Regions from separate parts of the Homo sapiens genome. Here region 2 is linked to region 1. The links come from fine-mapping of genetic effects on plasma protein levels. Region 1 holds a variant in brackets. A gene starts in the other region. All regions are shown on their reverse strands.

Region 1 (5,353 bases):
TGGCAGAGCCAGGATCCCAACCCTGGCCTGTGTGACCCTGAGCCTCCAAGTCACACCAGCTCATCTACTGTGCAGGAGCAAGGCTCTGTTTCATGGAGGACAGGGGCCTGGGGTGACTCTTCCCCTCCCAGGGAAAGAGCCTTAGAATAATTACAACAATAACAAGAATAGCCAGGCGCGGTGGCTCATGCCTGTAATCTGAGCACTTTGGGAGGCTGAGGCAGGCAGATCACTTGAGGTGAGGAGTTCGAGACCAGCCTGGCCAACATGGTGAAACTCCGTCTCTACTAAAAATACAAAATGAGCTGGGCATGATGGCGCACACCTATAATCCTAGCTACTCAGGAGGCTGAGGCAGGAGAATTGCATGAACCTGGGAGGCAGAGGTTGCAGTGAGCTGAGATTGCGTCACTGCACTCCAGTCTGGGCAACAGAGTGAGACTTCATCTTAAAAACAAAAACCAAAAACCAATAATAGCTGCTATTGACTGGTGCTAGCCAGACCTGGCCGGGCCCTATGCTGTGTGTTTTACAAGCATTCTCTCTTATGCTAACCCTGTTTACAGAGCAGGAAATGGAGGTCCAGAGAGGCCAAGTCAGTTTCTCCAGGTCTCACAGTGAGGAAGGGTGGAGCAGGGAATGGAGTGTAAGCCACACTGGCCCTGGCGACTCACCTTTGGTTCTGCTGGAGCTTTTCAGTTCTAATGTACCAGCCACGGAAATTGCCTGCAGGTTGGGGAGCAAAGGGTTAGGACACCCCAACGCTGGAGGACCCTCCCCACCCTCAGCAACCTGGCCCTCCAAGCACTTACCCAGAGTTTCCAGGGGTCGCTGGGTGGGACCAGTAGGGGGTGCTGGCTCATAAATGTTGATGCCTGAAATGGACAGGTGAGTGGAGCCTCTGGGCAGCCCCTCCATCTTCCACCGCCTCACCCCTCCCTACCCGCAGGGCTATACACTGGAAGGGCAGGAATCTGTGCCAGGTCAGGGAAGCCCGGCAGGGATGAGTGAGTCAGGGCTCTGGGCTGGGGAGAGGGCAATGCCAGGGGTAAGTGGGGTGTGGTGAGACAGACAGAGACAGAGGGACAGAGAGAAGAACCCAGAGAAAGAGACAGGCCAAGAGTTTGAAACCAGCCCAGCCTGGCCAACATGACGAAACCCTGTGTCTACTAAAAATACAAAAATTAGCCAGGCATGGTGGTGCATGCCTGTAATCCCAGCTACTCGGGAGACTGAGGCAGGAGAATTGCCTGAGCCTGGGAGGCGGAGGTTGCAGTGAGCTGAGATTGCACCACTGCATTCCAGCCTGGGCGACAGCAAGACTCCGTCTCAAGAGACAGAAACATAGGCAGAGGGGGAGAGAGAGAGGAGGAGAGAGAAAGAGAGATGGAGAGGTGTGAGGGAGAGGTGTGAGAGAGGTAGGTAAGAGACATGACAGAGAGACAGGTGGTAAAATGGAGAGGCACAATGACAGAAAAAGAGACAGAGGGATGCAGAGAAATGCATAGACAGAGAGAGACAAAGAGGTAGAGAGATAAGGAAACAGGGAAAGAGGAAGAGACAGACGGTCAGGGTGGTGCCTCCTGGCTGCTCTGGGCCCTTGCGCACCTTCGGGGTTGGGCGAGCGCAGCAGGTTGCGGTAGAGCGGCCGCCGCAACAGGAGCAGCTTCCAGGTGAGGCGCTGGGGCAGCTCCAGGCCCCCGCTCAGCGGCCCCCACTCCTCCAGCAGCAGCTGCCGGGCGTGAGCCTCGGACGGCTGCGCCGGCTCGGGGAGCTCGGGGGCCTCCGGGGCTGCGGGCGATGGCAGCGACGGCGGCGAGGGCAGTGGTGGCGGCGACGGCGGCGGTGAAGGCGACCGTGGCGAGGGAGGCAGCTCCTGGAGGCTCGCGGGCCCATCGGCTTCCATCCCGCCACCGAGCGCGTGTCCCTCACGCACCTCCTCCATCCCTCGAGGCTGCGCGACTGTCCCGGTTTCACAGGGCTGGGGTTAACTGGGAGCGGGAAGGGGCAGGGCACCCTGGCTGACATTTAAGAGAGGGGCGTGTCGGGGGAGGATCTTGTCCCTCGGACCCTCCTCCCTCAGACCCAGGAGTCCAGGCCCCTAGCCCCTCCTCCCTCAGACCCAGGAATTCAAGACCCCAGCCCCTCCTCCCTCAGACCCAGGAGTCCAGGCCCCTAGCCCCTCCTCCCTCAGACCCAGGAATTCAAGACCCCAGCCCCTCCTCCCTCAGACCCAGGAGTCCAGGCACCAGCCCCTCTTCCCGCAGACCCAGGAATCCAGGCCCCCAGTCCGTCCTCCCTCAGATCCAGGAGTCCAGGCACCAGCCCCTCCTTCTTCAGACCCAGAAGTCCAGGCACCAGCCCCCTCCTTAGGTCCCCAGACTTCCTGCCCCAATTTTCCCAGGGCCAGCTGAGGACCCAGCGTGAGCCTGACAGAGCGTGTGAC[T/A]AATGTGCTAATGCCAGGGCTCCGGGCTGTCTAATGGGACCCGTGCACCTCATTAAGATCCAGCATGGCAGGATTAAGAGGCTAATTAACGAAGACCCCCCTCCTCCCCCTCCCCACTCTGCAGAGGGGGAGTGGATGGATGAGCTGAGGTGCAAAGGGAAGGTCCTGCCTCTGCCACTTCCTTCTCTGTCCTCACCTGGGACACCCCCTTGGGGCCCTGACACATACTGTCCAGAAAACCAAGGTGAGGAGAGCAGAGAGACACCCAAAACCAGAGATGAGGAGCCTCAGAGATGGGGGACCCCAGGGAGGCACAAAGATGGCAGTGAGAGGGAAGCAGTGATCCCAACTGGGTGTTCTGGGGGCCTGCACCCCTGCCTGGGACTGGGGTGGGGGGCTGCAGAAGCCTCCCCCATCAGAGGTCACGAGGAGGTGGGAGCAAGGGACGGGGCACAGGTGGGGACAGGAGGTCAGGTGTGGAGGAAGTGGGGTGGCAGAGGAACCTGTAGCGCCAGATTCCCACAGCCACTTCCTGCCCGTGGCCACATCCCTCTACCTGGCCCAGGTAAGCTCAGCACTGAGCGCTTGCTTCTCTCTCTCTCTCTCTCTCTGATGGAGTCTCACTCTGTCACCCAGGCTGAAGTGCAGAAGCACGATCTCAGCTCACTGCAACCTCCGCCTCCCGGGTTGAAGTGATTCTCCTGCCTCAGCCTCCCGAGTAGCTGGGATTACAGGCATGTGCCACCACACCCAGCTAATTTTGTAGTTTTAGAAGAGACGAGGTTTCACCCTCTTGATCAGACTGGTCTCAAACTCCTGACCTCAAGTGATCCACCTGCCTTGGCCTCCCAAAGTGCTGGGATTACAGGCGTGAGTGCTTTCTACTGAGCGCCTCTAAGTTCATTTCATTCTCCTACAAAGACAAGGTGGGTGCTACTATGACTGGCATTTTATAGGTAAAGGAAAAGTAACAGCAAACATGTGTGTGCAGCTGTGTGCTGGCGGATGCCCTCTGGGACGGGTCTTTCCAATACAACAACCCTGTGAGGGGTGCCATGGAAACAGAAGCTGCCTTCCCAGGCTGGGTCCCATATAGTCCCAGATAACTCCACATGCTTTCACAGGCACTTCCTGCCCCAACGCTCAGACACTCACAGACACTCAGCGGGTGGGGGACAGAAGTCACGCCCCAGTGATAATGATCATGTAATTGAGGCTGCCCTCATGCCAGGCATTGCACTAAGTCCATTAGTTGCAATGGACTTAGGTAATTAATTAGGCAATTAATTCAGTCTCCACATCCACCCTAGGAAGTAGCATGACTAGGAAGTCATGTGCATTTAGCAGATGAAGAAACTAGGCACAGAGAGGTCTAGTAACTCACCCAAGGTTGCACAGCTGGTACACAACGAGTTAGACACACTCGCATACAGAATCTTAGAGAACATACACAGGGACACAGATTCAAATTGCCCCCAAGGGCTGAGTGTGGTGGCTCACACCGGTAATCTAACACTTTGGGAGGCTGAGGCAGGAAGATCACTTGAACCCACGAGTTTGAGACCAGCCTGGGCAACATGGCAAGACCCCATCTCTACAAAAAAATTAATAAATTATCTCAGTTTGGTGGAACACACCTGTGGTCCCAGCTACTCAAGAGGCTGAGGTGGGAGGATCGCTTGAGCCCAGGAGGTCAAAGTTGCAGTGACCTGAGATCGCATCACTGCATTTTAGCCTGGGTGACAGAATGAGATCCTGTCTCAAAGAAACAAAAAACAAAAACAGGCCAGGCGCAGTGGCTCACACCTGTAATCTTAGCACTTTGGGAGGCCAAGGCAGGCGGATCACTTGAGGTCAGGAGTTCAAGACCAGCCTGGCTAACATGGTGAAACCCCCATCTCTACTAAAAAAAAAAAAAAATACAAAAAAAAAAAAAATTAGCTGGGCATGGTGGTGCGTGCCTGTAGTCCCAGCTACTCGGGAGGCTGAGGCCGGAGAATCGCTTGAATCCAGGAGGCAGAGGTTGCAGTGAACTGAGATCGTGCCACTGCACTCCAGGCTGGGCAACAGAGCAAGACTCCATCTCAAAAACAAAACAAAACAAAAAACAAATCGCCCCTGGGAAGAAACATGGGCTCATACAGAAGCAAGCAGGAGATGATGGTTACATTTATTGAGTCTTGGACTCTTTGAACCTCACAACCCTGCAGAGTTGGGAACTGGTAATTGTATCTCTATTGACAGATCAGGGAACTGAGGCAAGAGAGGTGAAGTGACTGCCCTGGAAAGTTGGGAATTAACCAGTGCCCAGCGGGTGGGGAAAAACCAGGGGAGGGAGCAGATCAACAAATACTGCACCTGGAAGTCCCCAGCAGATTCCCAGGCAAACACTGGCAGAGCTCACAACACACGCACGACCAGACACTCCCACCACCACCACACGCACACAAACCCACGCCCTTGTCCTGGCTGCCCACCCTCCCTGCCTGAGACCTGTCATCGCCATGGGGGAGGAGGAGAAGGAGAAGGAGGGGTGTCTGGTGAGTGTAGTCAGAGCTGTGCCCAGGTCAGAATCCAGGGCAGGGAGTGGCTGGGAGCCGGAGGAGACTAGGACAGAAGGGCAGCCAGGAGTCTGTAGAGTGGCTGGATGCGGTGGCTTGTGCCTGTAATCTCAGCACTTTGGGAAGCTGAGGCGGGCAGATCACTTGAGCCTAGGAGTTGGATACCAGCCTGGGCAACGTGGTGAGACCTCGTTAGCCAGGCGTGGTGGCACATGCCTGTAGTCCCAGCTACTTGGGAGGATGAGGCAGGAGGATTGTTTGAGCCTGGGAGGTGGAGGTTGCAGTGATCTGAGATGGCGCCGCCACTGCACTGCAGCCTGGGTGATGGAGCGAGACCCTGTCTCAA
Region 2 (5,324 bases), not on the chromosome of region 1:
TCATAGAATAGCTCAGGAGACAGCTGGGAAATAGCTCTTTGCAGTACTATGAAATAAGCTAATATACTTCTCTTAAACATTTATTTCTATCTTCACGCCATGGGGATTATCTAGCTCTGAACCAGTGTCACAGGGAAAGAGATGTTTGAGTTGGTTCAGGAAGATGGGTCTCTGCTGTCATGAGGCCAGCTCTATGTGATTCATGCAACTGGTTGTTGTGAAGGTCCAAATTCACCATTTGGTGAAGCTATTTACAAAGGCGTAGTAATTATGAAGACTTCTTCTACAAGTAACAAAAGCTCAGAGACAAAACTGTTTAAATAAGAATGGAATTTATTAACTAACATAATATAAATTTTTGAAATAAAGTGGCCTTCAGTTCCTTCCACGTTTCTGCTCTGCTATCCTCAGTTCTGGCCCCATCTTTGAGGAGGTAACACAATGGATGCAGCACTTGTAAATATCACGTGAGATAGAAAAATGTGTAGAGGCAAAAGAGAGACTGTCTCTCCCTTTGGTTCTCTCCTAGGGGTGGGGAATTTTACAGAAGCCAGAATTTTTATTTTATTTTATTTTAAGTTCTGGGATACATGTGCAGAACGTACAGGTTTGTTATATAAGTAAATGTGTGCCATGGTGGTTTGCTGCACCTATCAACCCATCACGTAGGTATTAAGCCCCACATGCATTAGCTATTTATCCTGATGCTCTCCCTCCCCCCATAGCCCTGGCCCCAACAGGCTCCAGTGTGCATTGTTCTCCTCCTTGTGTCCATGTGTTCTTACTGTTCAGCTCCCACTTATAAGTGAGAACATGAGGTGTTTTTCTCTTCCTGCGTTAGTTTGCTGAGGATAATTGAAACCAGAAATCTGATGTTAGCTTTTGTCTCATGGGCCAACTGAGTTCTAAACGGACCACAGGAATATCATTCTATGACAGGAGAATCAAAACAACAAGGAAGATTATGCTGATGGGAGACCTTTGCTACACTACCCAGCTGGCCAACAGGCATAGCAATGTATGCTTGCTTTCTTTAAAGCAGAGAGTGCATACACATCTCGAACCAGTTAAGCAAACGTTTAACAACTTGCTCTATATTTGAACATCACCTCTGAATGCACTTTCAACTGCTGAGGCACTTATTTTGAGCTTGGGTCTTAGTTTCCTGAAATTAACTCCAGGATTTTCACTTACCCTGTTTTGCACTGTAGATAATTTAATAATTGTCCCACCCATAAAGATATCACATTATATGTTTCTTCTTTATATGTTTTCATCAAAAGCCATCCTTTATTCCACTTAAGTTATTGTTTTACAGTACCAAAATATCAACCTCCTGTTTATTTTGTTCACAAACAATATTTTCTGAATTAAATAAATACTTCATACAAAGCAGGTAAAAATATAAATATTCTTCTTCTGGTCCCTGACACTAACTTTCCAACATCTTCTAAAGTTAACTGGAGTTCAAAACCGTAATGTAAATCAACAGCTACTGAATCTACTCCTTCTTACTAAACTCAGTACCTGCAAAGTCCACTTCCATTATTGGGGTTGCAGAAGATGGTTTCAGAAGTAATGGCACAGAGATTGAAACCATTTGCTGCCTTTGTCTTTCTTTTAGAATGCAGATTCCAAACATCTTTTTCTATATGAAACTTGCCAAAATTTTTTCTTATAATTTAAAATATCTTTTAATGTAGAGTTTACTTTGTAAGCCTGAAAGACGAATTTTGTAGGCATTCGCTCTGCTTCCTTTTCAGAGCTTAAATCATATACTATTATCCAATGATAATTGTCACCTTTCTTTCCTGTCCTCAATTACCTTCGATTAACAACAATGATAATATATTAATAATACCCTCCATTTCCCTCCAAGCAATTATAGGCATTTTAGTTACATTAACTAATATCAACCCATCAACCCTGTAAGGAAGGGAAGGGAAGATATTATTTTAATGAAGAGGATGTTTGAGCACTGTGACTTACCCAAACAAAAAACAGCTGAGGTGGACCAAGCAAGGATTTCTTGTCTTAGGTAGGAAAACATCTCAGCCAGGTGTTTATCAATTTGTCAGGATATTCCTCCAGGGTTGACTCAGTATTCATTGTTCAAAAAGCTGATGTCTATTGAAGATTGTCTCCGTTCCACAAGTAATATTTGTCAGGTGACTTGGGTGTAAATCTTTTTGCTAGAAGCTAAAATCATTGACCAGAATTTAATTTTACATGCTAATTTTCTGTCTCTTAATTTGGAGGTAAATAAAATGAGTCAAATGCTGGTGCCTAGAATCTTTAGTCTTGCTGCTGTTGCCCATTGGCCATTTCAGAAGAGTCACGTGATGAAGACGCTCTTTAAATTAAACTACTGGCAGCACCGTAATGCCTATATTTCTTTGGTTTTCAATTACGAGTGGCTCTTCTCAGCAAGTGTTCCATGATGGTTGAGCCCTTCTTGGGAACCTGGAAGCTGGTCTCCAGTGAAAACTTTGAGGATTACATGAAAGAACTGGGTGAGAAATACCATTACAAATTTGGAAATTGGCAAAGCATTTTGTGATGTGATTGGGTTTGTACTTTACCATGAATTTTCCTACAATTATCTTCCTTTTGTGATCCTAGGGTATATAGACTAACACAATGTATGCTTCTACTTTTGCTTTTTTAAATTACTAGTAATAATTGTCTCTTTTTGGAAGACTAGGCCCACAGACACCTCTGTCCAGTCATGATCCATATATTTAAGCCCATTTATCCTTTTTGAAAATACTTCACCTAACTTCTAGATAGAATTTCATTTTAGCTTGGTCATTTCATTTAATAACATTTTTCCCAGCTTCAAATTTATAGACAGTAATCACTACCTACAATTAAATTGATCAATTAAATTTGTTTCAAGGTTTAAGTTATAGCTTTAAAACAGCAGTATCAACTAACAAAATTTCTAGTTGGTTAATTTTTAGAGTTCTCATAAATGTGAGAGATATTTTATAAACATGGTTTTGAAGAATTACAAATCTGAAGAAACACAACATTTTTACTCATTGAATGTCTCACCACTGGATATTCCTCAGAATTATAAACCCTACCAATCCTTTAATCTCTAACTCAAGTCATTTAGTTACACATTAATTATAATGACTTGGGTGTATAATAGCTAAACTGTTCTTTACTAATGGAAGAACAGCAATTATTTCATATTTTTCATATTTAATTAAGAGAAACCTCCCTTGTAGTAAACTGTATACAAAGCCAAGGACTTTCTTATCTTTACTTTTTTTTAACTTACATAACATGCTTAATGGATGCTTACAATTATTAATTATGTTTACTCATTCTAGACAATGAAATAACAATGCCTTATCCCCATAATAAGTCAATGTGCTTATAAATGTAATATTTGTTCCTCTGATGTAGTCAATATTCACTTTCTCAGAGGGTCATAAGAAACAAGTTTTTCTGTCTCTTCATAGATTTATAGACTCACTTGTTTTGAATAAAAATTGGGGGGGTATATAAAAAACTTGGGCCTTATGGCCAGAGTAGCACTTGTGTTGACTGGGAGCTGGGTTTAGGCATAATACAAGCAAGAATAACAGCTGAGCAGTTTCTATGTGCCAGTACCATGCTAACCCCTTTCATTTAACCTTTTAAAACATCCGCTGGCTGGGTACAGTGGCTCAGGCCTCCAATCCCAGCACTTTGGGAGGCCAAGGCAGGTGGATCACCTGAGGTCAGGAGTTCGAGATCAGCCTGGCCAACATGGTGAAACCCCATCTCTACTAAAAATACAAAAATTAGCTGGGCATGGTGGCATGTGCCTGTAATCCCAGCTACTCGGGGGGCTGAGGCAGGAGAATCGCTTGAACTTGGGAGGCAGAGGTTGCAGTGAGCTGAGATTGTGCCACTGCACTCCAGCCTGGGCAACATAGCGAGACTCTGTCTCAAAACAAAAAACAAACAAACAAACAAACAAAAAAAAAACTTGCGAGGTCAAGTATACAGTTATCCACACTTTACTATTGAGAAAACTGAAGGTTAGGAGAGGTAAATAATATGCCCAAGCTAGCAAGTGGCCAAGTTAGAGCCTGGGTTTTAACCATCTCACTCTTCTTTGTGATGCAGATGTCTAACACTGCTTCTCTACAGTAAGATGTGTCATATCAGTTCCACAATCTAAATGTGAAATGGAGTTTGATATCAGGACAGAGAAGGAGTCAGCTCTTCTGCCCACCAACTGCAGGAGTCAAGTTTGACAATGGGAAATTCCCAACCAAACCACAGGGCCAGGCTCTAAGTCAAACTCCTCCCGCACCCACAAGGTTATCGTAACACTCCACAAGGTGAAGTGCAAGCATTTGATCTCTTGAAAGGCACCATACAAATTTACATTTTAGAGGAAGTGTAATAGTCTCAGAGAGTGAATTTAGCTTTTCAAAATGTCACATATATACCTTATGACTGGGAGGATCTAGCTCAGCCCTGATATCACAGAAAACATAAAATAAGTTACTATACATTATCCAAAATTTCAAAATAGGTAAAGTAAGCATTCTTTGAAAATTGACTTCCAGAGTGATTGTTAACAATGTCTTAATAAGGTCCAAGGCTATCTCTGTCTTGTAGGAGTGAATTTCGCAGCCCGGAACATGGCAGGGTTAGTGAAACCGACAGTAACTATTAGTGTTGATGGGAAAATGATGACCATAAGAACAGAAAGTTCTTTCCAGGACACTAAGATCTCCTTCAAGCTGGGGGAAGAATTTGATGAAACTACAGCAGACAACCGGAAAGTAAAGGTCAGAACTAATTCTTCCTGGTGTTCAACAATCAGGAAAAAGTTAGAAGGTGGTTAGGCATGGTTTACTGTAATTTGATTTATCACCAAGTCTGTCTGGGCTTGTTCTGTTAATAGTCGCACATCTCTAAAGTTAATCCTTTTGCTAATTATTTTGATGGTTAACAATAGGGCTAAAAGATTCAAATTGTTTTCATTTCATTTTTTCTTATCTCTTTGTCATATGAAAGAGCACATAGAAAGAAACAACTAAACACAAATAGCTTATGCATTGTTTGCCTAGGAAAGAGCACTAATTGAATAATCTCTTGAGACTTCTAGTTTGATAGTACTACATCATGACAACAAAAGTGAGGATTTTAAGAAAAGAATTTCAAAATAGAAATTAAAAAGTAGATATGTGGTCTCATGTAGGTTAGAAGGTAGTGAGTTGCTACTTCTGATTTCTTTATGCATTTATAGAGCACCATAACATTAGAGAATGGCTCAATGATTCACGTCCAAAAATGGCTTGGCAAAGAGACAA

Which allele goes with the higher level. Positions count from the first base shown, and alleles are read on the strand shown. Strength reflects both the effect of a copy and how common the allele is.
As copies of A replace T in region 1, the plasma level of the protein whose gene starts at base 2,385 in region 2 goes down (moderate association).

The links. PIP is the chance, under the fine-mapping model, that this variant and not a neighbour inherited with it causes the effect. The UK Biobank Pharma Proteomics Project read protein levels with antibody pairs (Olink). The fine-mapping took linkage between variants from a reference panel, not from the people measured, so its PIPs are less certain.
Region 2: it holds the start of FABP9, and the variant in region 1 is fine-mapped to the plasma level of the FABP9 protein (UK Biobank, PIP above 0.99).

What each region holds. Positions count from the first base shown.
Region 1 is chr19:39,193,575-39,198,927 of GRCh38, reverse strand. It overlaps NCCRP1 (NCCRP1, F-box associated domain containing), which reads right to left and starts at 1,964. Exons shown (of 6, transcript NM_001001414.2): 1 at 1,609-1,964; 2 at 813-875; 3 at 675-726. The coding sequence starts at 1,945. The variant T/A (reference allele first, on the strand shown) is at 2,447.
Region 2 is chr8:81,458,640-81,463,963 of GRCh38, reverse strand. FABP9 (fatty acid binding protein 9) reads left to right here and starts at 2,385. Exons shown (of 4, transcript NM_001080526.2): 1 at 2,385-2,513; 2 at 4,627-4,799; 3 at 5,261-5,324. The coding sequence starts at 2,441. It overlaps LOC101927118 (a long non-coding RNA gene), which reads right to left and starts at 2,506. Exons shown (of 9, transcript XR_001745980.2): 1 at 1,990-2,506.